Linked DNA regions of Homo sapiens: region 1 is linked to region 2. The links come from fine-mapping of genetic effects on gene expression. Tissue or cell type: esophagus mucosa. Region 2 holds a variant in brackets; the other region holds the start of a gene. All regions are shown on one strand. Distances are between the middles of the regions.

Region 1 (8,000 bases), 270 kb after region 2:
GTGCAAGGGGTCCTGTCTGGGCAGCACAAAGTGAACCATGTCCCAGTTCTCCCTGAAGCCCCTCTGGTTTCCTAGCACCCGTAGGATGACAGGCGGACCACTCCAGGTCCCGGGTGCCCCCCTCTGCAGCTTCTTACTCCATGACTCAGCCAAGCACTGCACCCCAAACCTCCAGGTGTGCCCACCTTGCCTCCCTTGCCACAGTGCCTGTGCCCTCCTTTTCACACTGCCCCAGAGCAGGTGCCGGAAGTGTCTGGGAGTGGTGATGCTGGGCTGTATTTCTGCAGATTACACCTATTTCTACAAGGGCCGGGACTACTGGAAGTTTGACAACCAGAAACTGAGCGTGGAGCCAGGCTACCCGCGCAACATCCTGCGTGACTGGATGGGCTGCAACCAGAAGGAGGTGGAGCGGCGGAAGGAGCGGCGGCTGCCCCAGGACGACGTGGACATCATGGTGACCATCAACGATGTGCCGGGCTCCGTGAACGCCGTGGCCGTGGTCATCCCCTGCATCCTGTCCCTCTGCATCCTGGTGCTGGTCTACACCATCTTCCAGTTCAAGAACAAGACAGGCCCTCAGCCTGTCACCTACTATAAGCGGCCAGTCCAGGAATGGGTGTGAGCAGCCCAGAGCCCTCTCTATCCACTTGGTCTGGCCAGCCAGGCCCTTCCTCACCAGGGTCTGAGGGGCAGCTCTGGCCAGTGCTCACCAGGGCCAGCAGGGCCCTAGGCTGGGGTCGTACAGCTGAAGTGGTGGGTGCATTGGCCTAGGCTGAGCGTGGGGCAGGGAATTATGGGGGCTGTGCCCCAGGGTGGGTGTCTGGCACCCAGCTGCCAGCCTTCTGTCCTGGGCAAACTACTCCCTACTTAAGGGAATAGGCCAGGCTCCATCCGGAGGCAGGGACCATGCCAGGAGGAGCCCCTGTGGTCACGGCATCCTGTGGTGTCCATGAGGTACCACAGCTCCACTCCTGGCTGGAACCCAGCACCCTCTGTGGGAAGCCAGCACTAGCTCTCATCCCCCATCCGGGAGATACCACCAGTCCTGGTCCCCTTTTGCCAACACCTGCTGGTCAGATGTCCCCCTACCCCCACCCCACTGTCCTCCAAGGCTACAGGACCCCTGCTTCTGACACAGTGAGCAACAAGCCTGGGTTTCCCTGCTGGCAGACGGCAGATCCCTCAGGAAACCTGCTCCACTTGTCAGGGTCTCTTCGGAGACCCAGGATTTAGGGTCACATGCTGCAGGCAGGGCTGTGGCCCAGCTGGGTCTGACAAGGACCCAGCTGTCACATCGTGAATATTTAAATGTCCTGTCACTACTGTCCCATTTTGCAAAGGCTGCTTGAGGCTTTAGGTGAACTAGAGGTGACTGTCTTGGTGATGAGGCCAGCATAGCGGCCCTCCCCCAGGCGACAAGGACCAAGGTGCTGCTAAGGCCACTCTAGCGCCCAGACACCCCAGTAGCTGAGCTCTGCTCCTATGGCTACAGAGCTGGGGCAGAAGCTGACCCCATTTCTGGAGGAAGATCCGAGTTTGTGACCGTCCTCCACTCCCCTCTATTGTCACTGTCCCCAGCTTTGCTCCAGTCTGTCACTTGCAGCCTGGAGCTCAGCCTCACCAGTTAGGTGAGGCAGAGATGGCTGCAGGGCCAACACTGGCAGAGCCTGGGAGTCCTTCGGAAGGGGACCAGGGCGTCTGAAGTGCTCAGTGCCCCCACTACTCTGAGGCCGACTCCAGCTACTCTGAGGCCGACTCAATCTCTCGGCTGGAAGCAGTGTTTTCCCAGAGCTTGGCCCTTGCTGACCTCGCTCACTGGGCCCATCTTCCCACACTGCTCTTAGAAGGACACCCCTACCGGTAGCAGCCCCAAGCTGAGGGGGCTCCCTTTTTGACCTTCACTGGCCCGCCCTTCACTGTCTCCAGCAGGAGTTCCTAGGGCTTGGCCTGCCTTGCTCCACAGTACGGCGGAGGCAGCCCTGCTTGTCACTGAGGAGCCCTAGACAAGGCCAATGGGTTCATCAATGCCCACTGGCTCTCTGCCAAAGCCAAAAAGGTGTCAGGCAGTCTCCAGCGTGCTGGCCGGGTCTCGGATGCCACCCCTGCTCACTGAGCCTGCATGGGCCTTGCCCCCGACCCTGTGGTCTCTGGGATTGGGGTCGGCTTACCCTGTAGCACAGACAGGGACTCCTGCTGCCCTGGGAGCTGTCTCAAGCAAAATCTCTTGTCCCAGAGGTGCCCATGTGGGTCCGCTGTGTCCCCTGTCATCATCCTTGTTTTTTCTCATTTTGGCCAAGGGCAGGCTCCCTGGGACAGGCAGGGAACAACTGCGGAGATATTAGTGATTCATAGGTTTGTACAGTGTTTTATACTTTGCAAAGCACTTTATTAGCTCACACCTGTCCACTCACATGAAACTCGTGTTAGGCCCTGGGAGGCCGACGGTAACTCTCACCGTGCCCTCAGATGAAGCACAGAGAGGTTGTTACTTGCCCGGGCCATCCAGTGGGCTGGCTGGGTCTTGTGTCCCCATCTGTGGACCCCTCTAGGGTCTGAGATGAGATGAGAAGTGTCTCCTGTATCCACCTCTTCCTGGCCTCCCTTCCCCCACTTCCTGGTCCCTGTCCACTCCTCAGGTTGGTGCTCTCACTTCTTGAAAGCTCTAGGCACCCCCGCCTCCCGCCAGGCTCCCCATTGGCTCCTGGCAGGCCAGCTGAGAATGAACAGGAGATGGAGGCAGGCAGCCCAGGCTGCAGAGGTGAGGGATGTGGGGCCAGGCCCAGAGGGCTCAGCCTAGAGGCTTCCAATCTCAGATTCTCCTGCCTGTGGTCATCTGTTTGTCCATCACCCCAGGACAGGGCAGACAGAGGGGCAAAGCACTGGGGGCCCCAGAGCCTAGCTTCCCCTCAGCCTGGGGGACATCACAGCATTTCAGTGTCAGTCACATTTTAAACTGATCAGCCTTTGTATAATGTTTTTTAAATCATTTCTAAATAAAACAGAAATACAGAGTGTGTCATTTCCCTGGGATGAGGGAACAAAGATCAGGTTCCAAGAGTAACCTTAGGACGCTCTGGGAAGAGAACCGGGTCCTTTGGGGTGTCTGGGAGCTGCCCACCCATCTCCTCTGCCAGACCGGCGGTCAGATAGCCTCCCTCTACAACAGGCTGGCCCTGGGGGCCCAGGGTTATTGGGGTTCCAGGAACACAGCCTGATGATGCCTCCTTACGATCCAGGATGGAGAGCAGCCCCCCCAGGAGTATGGGGAGGGTCACTGTGGCACGGGCTTCTCCATGACCTGGGACATGACCTGGGACACATAGTCAAGAGCACGGTTATCAGCAATACAGATATTAATAAAAGGCAGACGAAGTCAGGAGGTCAGCAACTTTGCGGGCTTACCAGGAGGCCTGTCCTGCCTCTGGAAGCCAGCGACAGAGAGGGATGCCCCCGACCCAGCCAGCCGGAGAAAGGGATGGGGTGGTCACGAAGGTCTGAGCTGGGTCTGGGTGTAGGCTGGGAAGCAGGCTGGGGTGTAGACTGCGAAGGCGGCCCTGCCGGGACTTCTTTCCAGTCCCCGGCGACCTCTTCGAATTCTCTGCTATCTCTGGGGAGCCTCGGGTGGGAGGGGGTGTAAGAGACGCAGGGACGTGGGGAGAGGAGACAAGGCAGGCAAGAACCACAGGGGACGGCGGACAGACGGGCGACATCCTGCGGAGGACGCCGTCAGTACCAGGAAGTGCAGGCGATGAGGAAGCGCACGTCGTCCAGCGGCCCCCACGGGCTGGGCTCGGGCTGGGGCTGGGGCTGGGGCTGGGGCTGGGGCTGGGGCGGATGCCGGGGCTGTTCCGGGCCCTCCGGCGCCGCAGGCTGGGGCTGGGGCTGGGGCTGGGTTTGCGCAGGCTCCGGGGCGCCGCGGCCGCCGCTTAGCTGAGCCCCCATGGTCTGCAAGAAGAGAAGCCCTTTAAGGTCTGGGTCGCCGGGACACCCCGCTAGGGCCCCGCCCCGGCTCTGCCCTCACCTCTCGCAGCCAGACCCGCGGGTCTCCCGGAACCCACCTCGGCGTCGGGAGGAGCTGGCGCCGTGACGCCACCACCGCGTACCGACCTCACCCTCCGTGCGTTGGAGCGGAAAGAAGGGACTCGACCCTGTGCTTCGGGGCGGGGCTCCGCGACCGTCCCCCGCCAATCCCGCCCCAGCGCCTCAAGGCCCCGCCCCGCGCAAGGGGACGGAATGCACCCCAACAGCCTCCAAGACGCCCAGGCCAGGAGGACGCTGGGAACCCGCTGCCCCGCCCCACGCCCACCCAGGAAAAGACCTGCAACCTCCATCCACCTTAGTCAAAGAATGCCCCGAAGCCAGATGCCCCAGAGCTCTCACAGGGGACTTGCCCAGCTCAGGGGAAAATCGGAACGGACTCTCTGCCTTTCAAGGCCAGAGAAGACCGGCGCAGAAGTCGGGTGAAAACTGTGAGAACTAGACCGGGCGCCGTGGCTCACGCCTGTAATCCCAACACTTTGGGAGGCCGAGGCGGTGGGTCGCTTGAGTTCAGGAGTATAAACCAGCCTGGGCAACACAGTGACTTCGTTTCTACAAAAAAATAAACGAGGCGAGAGGATCGCTTGAGCCCAACAGGTCAAGGCTACAGTGAGCCATCCTTGCGTCACAACACTCCAGCCTGGGTGACAGAGGGAGACACTGCCTCAAAAAGAAAAAAGAAAAAAGGAGAACTGTAGTGGAGAGTGTTTCTTGCCCCAGGATGAAGCCTCACATCCTGATGGTAGAGGAGAAGGGAATGGCGTGTGTGGAGGTGGTGAACTGGGTTGGGTGTGTGTTGTGTTCATCCCACCCTATCTTCCCAGAATGCTGGAACAACTGGAGAGTGCAGGGATTGTACACAGGCTGAGGGCCCCAAACATCACATTCAGAATGGCCCGGAGGGAACTGCACTTTAATGGGGTGGCACAGGACAGCAGAACCCTCAGCCAGCAGCCACAGGGCCTGCCAGCCAGCACAACAGAGCAGGTTTTTGCAGTAATGATAGATCCAGGCGATAAGCACAGGTGGAAAAGGGTTGGGTGCCCAGCCCCTCAGTCCCAGTGAGCTCTCTGCCACCTCCCTGCCAGCATCCGGTACAGATTGGGCGGAATGTGGAGAAGGTTGGCCACAGTCCAGAGCCAGGAGCCCATGGAACAACTTGGAAGGTGACTCAGGTGAGGCTGAAGAGAAAGGAAAGCGCACGGTCAGTAGCTGTTTCACAGAGCCCACCTCACTCTCAAGTGAGGTGCCTGCCTCAGCCCTCATCCCGGGACCAGCTCTGACAAGCTGCTCAAGCAGCTACTGCTCTAGTATCCTAGCCCTGAAAAACCACAAAGATGAGGATTAGCAGATGCTCAAGAAATATTTTTTGAATATGCTGGCTCTTATCTGCTCAGCAGTGTACAGATATGCTCTCACACTCGAGAAGCTACCAGAACAAACTGGTAGGCTCCCATTCTAGATGACATCTTTTCCCCATACTCTCAAAATGCAAGTTAACCCCCAACCCTGAGCAGAAGAAAGGAGAGGCCCCAGGTACCTGTCAATGAGGGAATCCCGCATGCTGGTGGCAATGGTGCTAGGCTGGGCTTCATTCAGCTTGAAGACACTCTCCACCACTGACAGCTCTGTGCTGGTTGTGTCCAGGCCACAGAAGGCACACCAGTCATTCACCACCATCCCAGCAGCAATCACCTCACTGCCTCGGTTCACAGTCCCCGCCTGCCAAGGGATGGGCTCAATGTGAGTCACGGCACCAAATTCTCTCCCTCCTCAATGAAGACTCTCCCCAAACCCTGCTCCTCCCTGACCTGCAGCCCCAGTCCCAAACTGTGGCAGGTAATGACCCAGACTCCCAAACACTAGGCAAAAGGATCTGCCTCGGGAGACGGGGTTCAGAGGACAGGAATGCTTACCACAAGGGGGACTTGAAGAAGAGAGGACAGCTCATCCTGGTCTTCAATTGAAGTCTTGGGATGCACCAGCCCTCCCTGATTGCTGAAGACACAGTAGCTTCCTACTAGCACCTGGTCGGCCACTGTCTGTCTGAAGACTTCCACCTTGAGCACATCTGCCAGAATTTCTTCTGTCTCCTGTCAATCAAAGATATTGTGTTCAGGGCTCAGAACTTACAGCCCCAGAACCAAGGTTCTCCATGCCCAGAAGCATCCAGGCCTTGGCTCCCTGAGCCCCTCATTTCTCCTCTGTACCTCATATGAAAGCCTCACCCAGAGAAAGGAGGAAGTACAGCTTAGAGCAGAGTCAAGGGCAGCTGTGAAGCCCCTAATATTCATGCATGCCCTGAACAGCTGGAGGCTGGTCTCAATATCACTTCTTTCCCCTCTCACCCACAGTCAAAAGTTCAACAGTCAATCACCTATCCTGGCCCAGGATGCAGGACTGGATGGTTCAATCTCCCCAATCATGAAGGATTCATACCCTCCCCAGCTTCTTTCTGACACTTGATAAGGCCTCTGTTATCACTATTCCAATGAGTACCTGAAACTCAAGAGCCCATATAGAAAAACCACAGGAGAGACCCCTAATTGCTGCCTGTTGGGAAAGAACAGTGGCTAACCACTGACTAGGATGGCCCTGTGACTCTTGGGTCAAGTTGGGCTGCCTCACCCTGTCCAAGTCTGGGTGGACCAAGGCCACGTAGTCATTGCAGGTGGTGACATTGCCCAAGGCTGAGAGCCGCTCCTCCACCCGCCTAATCTGCACTGTGTCTGGGAGGCTGTTGCGAATGTGTTGCAGCTCCTGGTCGGTGGTATTGTTGGGTACCAGGAGACCGTGCCTGTTCCCTGGAGAAACCCAAATTAGAGGGTGAATACACAAGATGCCTGCTGAGCCCTAGGGGCTGAGGATACCACTCAGCCCAGCCCAATCAGCTTTCCCAGGAAAGCTTTAGGCCCAGAGCCCAGCCCTCCAACCCACTGATCTGGAAAACACCCAGGGCAGGCCAGAGACCACCCAGGAATCCCAATAAATCCTGCCTACTTCACCATCACCAACTGGGAGGGAAGCTGAGCTCTTGGCATTAGCTGTATATTTTGCTACTTAAAAACTGAGCTGCCGGGCGTGTTGGCTCACGCCTGTAATCCCAGCACTTTGGGAGGCTGAGGTGGGCAGATCACAAGGTCAGGAGATCGAGATCGAGATCATCCTGGCTAACACGGTGAAACCCCGTCTCTACTAAAAATACAAAAAATTAGCCAGGCGTGGTGGCGGGCGCCTGTAGTCCCAGCTACTCGGGAGGCTGAGGCAGGAGAATGGCGTGAACCCGGGAGGCGGAGCTTGCAGTGAGCCGAGATCGCGCCACTGCACTCCAACCTGGGTGACAGAGCGAAACTCCGTCTCCAAAAAAAAAAAACAAAAAAACAAAAAAAACTGAGCTAACACTACACACATAGCAGAATGGCTAGATTATTATTTTTTAAGGCAGAGTCTCACTCTGTCACCCAGGCTGGAGCGCAGTGGTGCGATCTCAGCTCACTGCAACTTCTGCATCCTGGGTTCAGGTGATTCTCCTGCTTCGGCCTCCTGAGTAGCTGGAATTACAAGTGCGTGCCACCACACCTGGCTAACTTTTTGTGATTTTGTAGAGATGGGGTCTCACTATGTTGGCCAGGCTGGTCTCGAACTCCTAACCTCAGGTGATCCGCCCACCTCGACCTCCCAAAGTGCTACGATTACAGGTGTGAGCCACTGCCCCCAGCCAGAATGACTAAAATTTTTACAAGTCATCAATTCCAAGTGTTGGCAAAGATATATGGAGCAACTGAACTCTCATACTGAGACAGGAGTGTAAGTTGGTCAATCACTTTAGATAATTATCTGGCATCATCTGCAACTACTACTAAATAGTCACATAACCTGTGACTCTGCCATGCCACTCTTAGGTATCATATACCCAGTAGAAATATGTACATGTGTTCACTAAAAAAACATAGCAGCAC
Region 2 (8,000 bases):
GGGTCGGAGCAACTTTGAGTTATGGGGGTGCCCTGGTGGGGCCACCCTGGAATCAGGGGTGAGTGGAGTGACCTGGGTGGGAGTACAAGCCATGGGGGTGGCCTCTCAGCACCCTGTCCACTGCAGAGGAGATCAGCGACCTCACAGACCAGGTGAGTCTCAGTGGGAAGAGCATCCAGGAACTGGAGAAAACCAAGAAGGCGCTGGAAGGCGAGAAGAGTGAGATCCAGGCTGCACTGGAGGAGGCAGAGGTCAGGGGCTGGCTGCAGGGGTGGGTGGACACTGACCTGCTGCTCCACTGGCCATCCCCCCCCCCCACCCTACCCTGCCTGCTCTGTATCCACAGGGGGCCCTGGAGCTGGAGGAGACCAAGACGCTGCGGATCCAGCTGGAGCTCTCCCAGGTCAAAGCAGAAGTGGACCGGAAGCTGGCAGAGAAAGACGAGGAGTGCGCTAACCTGAGGTGTGTCCATCCTTCTCCCGTCCCCACCTCCCGAGAGCAGAAGGGGAGGGAAGCAGTGTGTACTCTGCTCTCTAGTCTGTCCCTCCCATGGGACTTTGAGGTCCGGGTTGCTGTCTCCATTCTAGCTGTGAACCTCGGAGATGCTAAAGGACTTGCCCAAAGTCACACAGTGGGGGTGGAGCCAGTCAGTCCACCTCTGTCTGCCTGGGCCTCACTCTTGTCCATGAACTTGCTCTGATGGGCCACAGGCAGTCACAAGAGACTTTAAATCGGGGAGGGGTGACTCATTTGTTCTCAAAATGGGTTCGTTTCCAACGGTCCTTGGGCATTTGTAAGGACAGGTATGCCCTTACGAGACCCCCTTTCATGCCACCCTCCTCCCATAGGCGCAACCACCAGCGAGCTGTGGAGTCCCTGCAGGCCTCCCTGGATGCAGAGACACGGGCCCGCAATGAGGCGCTGCGGCTCAAGAAGAAGATGGAGGGTGACCTCAACGACCTGGAGCTGCAGCTGGGCCATGCCACCCGTCAGGCCACAGAGGCCCAGGCTGCCACGCGGCTGATGCAGGCACAGCTCAAGGAGGAGCAGGCAGGGCGGGACGAGGAGCAGCGGCTGGCAGCTGAGCTCCACGAGCAGGCGCAGGCTCTGGAGCGCCGGGCCTCGCTGCTGGCTGCGGAGCTGGAGGAGCTGCGGGCTGCCCTGGAGCAGGGCGAGCGCAGCCGGCGACTGGCAGAGCAGGAGCTTTTGGAGGCCACCGAGCGCCTCAACCTTCTGCATTCGCAGGTGGGGACAGGAGTCCCTGGGGACAGAGCAGGTGCAGGCCTGCTGGCTGGCTGGCTCTGAGACTCCTCTTCCCCTCAGAACACAGGCCTCCTAAACCAGAAGAAGAAGCTGGAGGCGGACTTGGCCCAGCTGAGCGGGGAGGTGGAGGAGGCTGCACAGGAGAGGCGGGAGGCTGAGGAGAAGGCCAAAAAGGCCATCACTGATGTGAGGCTGGGCAAGGGCTGTGGGGAGCCTGGGACAGAATTGCAGAGGGACTTCCCTGAGGCTGGGCACCTGACCAGCTCCTCCTCCCCAACAGGCGGCCATGATGGCCGAGGAGCTGAAGAAGGAGCAGGACACAAGTGCACACCTGGAACGGATGAAGAAGACGCTGGAGCAGACGGTGCGCGAGCTCCAGGCCCGCCTTGAGGAGGCAGAACAGGCCGCCCTCCGTGGCGGGAAGAAGCAGGTGCAGAAGCTGGAGGCCAAGGTGTGTGCAGCCCCTCTAGTCCTTGGCGCAGGCAGGGTGGGTGACCCAGGGGTGGGCTTGGCATCAGGCTGTCCCCCTGCCTGCAGGTACGGGAGCTGGAGGCTGAGCTTGATGCAGAGCAGAAGAAGCACGCCGAGGCCCTTAAGGGCGTGCGCAAGCATGAGCGCCGTGTCAAGGAGCTCGCATACCAGGTGGGCGACAGGGTCTCCCTGGGGAGTGGCCCTGGAGCTGGCCCAGCCCAAGCAAGCCCTGAGTCCCCCTTGCCCGCCCAGGCCGAGGAGGACAGGAAGAACCTGGCTCGCATGCAGGACCTGGTGGACAAGCTGCAGAGCAAGGTCAAGAGCTACAAGCGCCAGTTTGAGGAGGCGGTGAGTGCGCTGGGGCCTGGACACCTGGACCGGGCACCCCAGCTCTGCCCCAGGGTCTGTGGCCAGGTGAGGCATCAGCAGCAGCTCCACCCTCCAAGGTCAGTGACCCAGAGGGAAGAGAGAAGCTTCTAACATCTCTGGGGAGATCAGACCTAGCTCCTTCTCATGGAACAGACCCCATGTGCTTTCCCCTGGCCAAGGCTGGGGCTGCCTCTGAGGGGTGGGGCAGGCACAAAAAGGCACATGAAGTTGGTGCGTCCCAACTTCCTTATTCCCGCTGTGGTATTGGTGAGGATGGACAGTGGCAATAGGAACAAAGTTGAGAACCAGGAGGAGCTAGCTCCCTTCTTGGACTGGGGCAGGGACCAGAATAAGCATCTCAGTCACCCAAGCGGAACCAAGGCCCTGTGTGTGCCCCCAGGAGCAGCAGGCCAACACCAACCTGGCCAAGTATCGCAAGGCCCAGCACGAGCTGGATGATGCGGAGGAGCGGGCAGACATGGCGGAAACCCAGGCCAACAAGCTGCGGGCACGGACCCGGGACGCCCTGGGCCCCAAGGTGAGGAGTGGCAGGGGCATTGCTCTCTGTGCAGGGGGACTGTGGGGGCTGACAGGTAGTACTGCTCACTCAGCTATCCCTTTCTCCTCAGCACAAGGAGTGACGGCCTGACCCCCTGGGCTCTAAAGAGGAATGTCTGCTGTTGCACATCTGGCTGAGGCCACCTGCCCCGATCCTGCCATCTCTGCATCGCCCCCTGCTGCCTTCAGCCTTCCCTGGGCCCTGAATAAACACCACAGCCAGTTTCCTTCTCATTCTTTTCTTTGGGGTTCAGGAGGAAAAACACAGTCCTAGGGACAAAAGCCAGGTCCACAGCAGTCATTTTTAAAATAAAGTTATTTAATAGTCTCCATTTAATTGGTTTATTTGCTGTTAATAAATTGGCAACACAAGGAAGGGCCCCATGTCCAGGCTCAGGCAGGAGCGGCTGCCTCAGGCAGAGGCAGGGCAGGCACAGCTGCCCCGTGCCCCAAGGGATGGAGGGAAAGGCCCCTCACTTCTGGGAGAACCCCCTTGGATGAACACAGCGGCCAATGAGCAAACAGAACCAGAGGAGCTACAGGAAAATGAGGCAGAGGGGCAGGCTTGGGGGAAGGCAGCATTCTCTGGTACCCACCACCCCTGCCCAGGGCTCAGAAGCCTTTGCCTGGGTCCAAAGGCCAGGGACAAGGGAGGCTTGGCTCACAGATGGGGGGTGGGGGTCACCCATATCTTCCTCCCCACTCTGGGACTGACTGACAGCCAAGAAACCGGCAGGAGCTCACACAGAGCTAATGCTAAATGTCCTCTTACCTCTGGGTGGCCCTGGGCCCCAGGGTTCTGAAGGAAAGGTGGGCATGGTACCCTGTCCTCATTATGGGGACTGAGGCTCTCCATGACCTAGGGCCCTCAGACCCAGGGGGACCAAGGGCTTCTAGGACTTCCCTCCCACCAAGCCTGTACCCAAAGACCTGGGGCAGGCAGAGAGCAGCAGGGAGGAACGGGAACAGGGCAGGGCGTGTGGCATCGTACCCACGCTCACCCACACTGGCCCAGCAGCCTCCCGAGGCCTGGCCCAAGGTCACTCCTCAGTGAAGTCCCTGTCTATGTCCATGTAGGGCTCCTCAATGTAGCTAACGAGAGCAGAGGGTGACTGCCGGTCCGGGTTCAACAGGATGGACACTGTCTCCTTCCAGTATGAGAAGCTGATGCAGGAGCTCTGGGCAAAGAGGGAGGGGCTGGGGGGCGCCTGGAGGACCCAGGTCAAGCCCAGCACCGGGACACCCCTCTGAGAGGCCCTGGGTCCGCGGCCCACCCATCACCCCCTTGAGGGTGGGGCACTCACGTTCTCTAGGCAGGTGCTGTCCTTGTCCTTGTGCAGGTAGTGCTGCTGCCAGAAGCGCAGCAGGTTGTGGAAGTTGTTGAGCAGGAAGCCGGGGTACTTCTTGCTGTGCTCCATCCGCTGCAGCAGCCGCAGGTACAGGGGCAGCCGCTCTTTCCGTCGGGCCAGCATCAGGATCACCAGGCTGGTGTTGAGGCAGCTGACGTTCTCCTGCAAGGCCACAGGCCCACAGGGTCAGGGGCTGGTGGGAGCCCCAGTGGCCCCTGGTGAACCTGGGTAGCCATCAGGCAGGGAGGAGAGTGGCCCCAGGCCTCGGGCCACCCACAGAGCTCTCCCTGCACAGAGGTGAGATAGGACTGGGGGAAGGGGGCCCCCAGCAGCCCCAGTTTCCTGACTGAGCACCTTCCTCTTCCCCACGCCCACCTCCCACCCCACCTGAGGCAACAACACCTGTCCCTGTCCAGACCTGGGCTCAAGCATCACTCCTTCCGGAAGGTCCGTCCCAGGCAGGGCTGGGTGCGTGTGTTGGGGCGGTTATCCCGCTTCAGAAGTGCCATTCAGCACTAGCCTGCGCGCCTCGGTGGGGAAAGAGTTCTGCCCCACTCACCATGCACTCCCACCTGGTGCTTCACCTCAGAACGGAACCAAAGACCACCTCTGAGAGGTGCTAAGATCACCCTCACTCTAGAAAAGAGGGGCAGGAGGCTCAGAGAAGGGAAGGCTGCATGACTATTCAGTGAGGGAGTTGGGCAGCCTCAGGTCCGATTCCAAAGCCCAGCAGGGCAGAAGGTGTGAGGGACGTGGACATGGGGGAGGCGGGGAGAGCACTGGCCTGCAAGTCAGCCTGTGACCTGAGGGCACTTGCGAGCCCTCCTTCCTTAGGCCCTGTCTGTACAATGGGACACTGATTCC[T/C]CCTGAGCACAGTCCTCAGAAGAGCTGGGTCTCCAGAGACGCACTTCTGGAGTGGGGGACAGAAACCTGCTGGGCACCAGGACAAAGGAAGTGGTTTCCAATCGACCTTCCCTGCTGTGTGTCTGCCGGGGCCTCTCACCTGGGTCAGCGTCTGCACGTGGATGATGTTGATGAGGCGGAAGAGGAAGGACATCTGCGTGGGCACCTGGGATATGTAGGCGAGCAGGCGGCATTCAGACAGTACCTCGGCAACTGTGGAGGGAGGCAGGGGTGCAGCAGGTCAGGCTTAGGCCCAGTGGCTGGGTCGCCCAGGCCTTTCGTGGAGCCCCGCTTGGGTCCTGACTCTGAAGCTAGGAGCTCATCATCAAAACAGCTTCAACGAAAGCTGACTGTGGCAGAAAGAAGGACCTCCAGCTGTCCTGCTACCAGGCAAAGCCATGTTCTCAGAGTGCCCAGGAGCACCCCACCTCATCCTCCAGAACCAAGCTCAGGGCAGCTCTCCCTCAGCCCTCCCCAGACTGGCTCCAGACCCGTGCCCTCCATATCACACACAGAAGAGTTCCCTCCACAGGAAGATGGATCCATGACGCTGCATTAAGAAAAACAACGCAAAAGTTCCACTCCTTCTGCAGAGGTCCTAGCGCAACTGGTTTTCCACACCAGCTCTCAGGTGAGTCCGGCCCAGTGCTGAGACCACAAGGCACAGGTTCTGCTCCGTCCACTAGTGTCGGAGCAACTGCTTCCCGCACAACTGGGAGGCAGGGCAATAACCGAAGGTACCAAAATCTGTGTGGCTGTTCCCCTGAAACAGACCCTCTGGGGCAGAAAAAGGAAGCAAACGGCTAAATTACCAACAACCGGGATACTTCTTGCTATCAATGACAGTGACCGTGACAAGGAACAAGTGCCTGACTTTTTGGGGGTGTGGGGGGGTCACAAACCCTCAGGAGAATCTGCTGGATGCCACAAGCCCTCTCCTAGGAAAAAAAGGAAACGCGTGCGCATACACATGGAAGTGCGTTAGCAAGTCCAGGAGGGTTCAGATGCCTGCTGCACCACAGGGCACCTGCGATGCCACGCACAGCACACTGAGGACGAGGGGGCCAACTCATCGTGCCAGGCAATACCAGCCCAGAAGAGGAAGGTCTTTTTCTGGTTTTCTTTGCATCTTGCTAGCAACAATGGATTTTCACCTTATTAAAGTGTTGAACAAGGCAGCAAAGCCAATTGCCCTGGAAGCCGCCACCTTGAGGCCGGCCACGTGGGCATCTGGTGCAGCTCCCTCAGTCATTCTTGTCTCCCTGCTGGAGACAGGGTGTCTGATGCCAGCATTCTTACCCTGCATGACTTGCCTTGACAGCCTGCCTTTCATGTACCTTTCATATCCACCTGGTTTTCAAATCGGTCCAGGGACAGAGTGACACAGCGCACCAGCATGTTGGAGTCCACCAGGGAGCTGTTGATCTGCTTCAGGAATACCTGGAACTATACAGAAACCAAGCTCACAGCAGGCAGTGGGCTGCTGGCCAGGTATGGCCATGGCCCGGGGGGATAGTCACTACAAGGGGCATCAGCGACCTCTACCAGCCCCACTGCTTCAGATAGGAAGACAGAGGCTCAGATAAGCTGAGGGACCTCCCCTCACCACCCAGGTACTAAGAGGCACTCCCCGGAATTCAGCACAGATCCGACACTCTCTCCAGTGGTTTTACGCTCAAGGGTGCTGGATTCCTTTAATTTTTACTTTTAATTTTACTTCAGCTAGCCTGAGCTGGGTTTCTGTCACACACACTCGGTGAGCCTAACACACCAGGCCCAGTCCCTCCCTACAGCGGCTCCCACCGTGGCACCCACCATGCTGCGTCACGGCAGGCGCACAAGCCACCCATTCCCACCCTCACTCCCTACCCACAAGCAGCCCCGGTTTTCATCCCTGCATTCCCAGGGTCTAGCACAAAGCCAGACAGAGCAGGTTCCAATGAATGTTTGCCAAAGACTGCCCAGACTCCCCCGTCGTCTCTAACGTAAAACCTGTGCCTAAAGCCTGGCAGACCAGGACTCCAGGTGAACTTCTGGACAACCCAGCACACTCCACAGAGCCCTGGGTTAACTTTACCTTTGCATCGGTGTTGATATATTTATTGAATCTCTTGAATGCATCAACGTTGAACTTCATCAGCTCCCCCAGGAGGTCAAAGTAACTCTGGAGCACATCCCTTGACTTACACTCGCTGTCCACAATGCAGTAAAGGATGTGCTGGGTGAGGAGGGACAGGGTGAAGGTGTCAACGTGGCTGCCCCCACCAGGGCCTGGCATGGAGCTCAGACCATGCATTGGCTTTGAGCAAGCATCCTGGGGATGGAACTGGCAACACTGTCTAGATTCTTGTCTGAGGATGCTGGTGGCTCCAAGGACAGGACCAGGCCTGACAGACCTCACCAGGAGGTGGAGCAGACTGGGAATGCAGCACAATCTCTCCCCTGCCCAGGGCGTACAGCTGAAGCCTGTGACCTGCTCTGTGGTCACCAAGATGGCCGGGGTGCTCAGCTCCTAGGTGAGGGGAGCTGTCATCACCAGGTCTAAAACACAGGCCACTGCCTAAGCACTGAGGTCATTCAAGTAAATGAAGGACAGAATTTAAAAGCAAAGGACACATTTTGACCCCATGGTTTGTCTTTGTGTTTATGAACGAAATTGTTTAAATAGAGTTTACACCAAAATACTGAGTTTTCATCAAGAGAATAAAGCCAATTTACTCCTTTATAAAGTTTTCTACATTTTCTTGAAGTTACATTGATTTGGATCAATTCTTTTCCACATGGATTTTATAATTCGTGGGTCAGTTTCTTGTCCATATGAAAAAATCTGAAAGACCAATTATAACTTTGGCCATTCTGCTCTAAGTTTTACTTTTTCTGAAGACCATTATTCAATAAAGGAAAATTAACTTTTAGTACAAAATATCTTCAGGGTCAAAATGCCTTGCTGGGTAACCAAACTGTCACCCTCCTGCATGGCCTGGCCACCCTCTAAACCTGTCACCCCGTAAGCACCCATGGGGAACCCACAGTTGGAAACCCAGGGCAAAATCTAAGGCAGCCTGCACAGGCATTTGGAAGTCACGA

The links. PIP is the estimated chance that this variant, and not a neighbour inherited with it, causes the effect.
Region 1: it holds the start of MMP24OS, and the variant in region 2 is fine-mapped to the expression of MMP24OS in esophagus mucosa (GTEx, PIP 0.96).

The regions. Positions count from the first base shown.
Region 1 is chr20:35,273,985-35,281,984 of GRCh38, forward strand. MMP24OS (MMP24 opposite strand) reads right to left here and starts at 4,138. Exons shown (of 2, transcript NM_001355003.2): 1 at 4,025-4,138; 2 at 2,368-3,948. The coding sequence starts at 3,945. The coding sequence ends at 3,730. It overlaps MMP24-AS1-EDEM2 (MMP24-AS1-EDEM2 readthrough), which reads right to left and starts at 4,138. Exons shown (of 15, transcript NM_001355008.2): 1 at 4,062-4,138. MMP24 (matrix metallopeptidase 24) reads left to right here. Exons shown (of 9, transcript NM_006690.4): 9 at 288-3,014. The coding sequence ends at 625. EIF6 (eukaryotic translation initiation factor 6) reads right to left here. Exons shown (of 7, transcript NM_002212.4): 4 at 6,670-6,845; 5 at 5,958-6,134; 6 at 5,582-5,763; 7 at 4,934-5,222. The coding sequence ends at 5,213. RefSeq lists enhancers at 1,466-2,073, 2,074-2,681, 3,268-3,367, 3,488-3,657 and silencers at 3,788-4,007, 4,098-4,317.
Region 2 is chr20:34,999,445-35,007,444 of GRCh38, forward strand. MYH7B (myosin heavy chain 7B) reads left to right here. Exons shown (of 45, transcript NM_020884.7): 37 at 127-251; 38 at 347-462; 39 at 849-1,245; 40 at 1,324-1,449; 41 at 1,544-1,714; 42 at 1,801-1,905; 43 at 1,987-2,082; 44 at 2,504-2,641; 45 at 2,733-2,993. The coding sequence ends at 2,744. TRPC4AP (transient receptor potential cation channel subfamily C member 4 associated protein) reads right to left here. Exons shown (of 19, transcript NM_015638.3): 15 at 6,991-7,131; 16 at 6,251-6,359; 17 at 5,014-5,126; 18 at 3,966-4,172; 19 at 2,960-3,839. The coding sequence ends at 3,702. Among named protein-coding and RNA genes, the nearest start is that of MIR499B, 13 kb to the left of the region's middle. The variant T/C (reference allele first, on the strand shown) is at 4,875.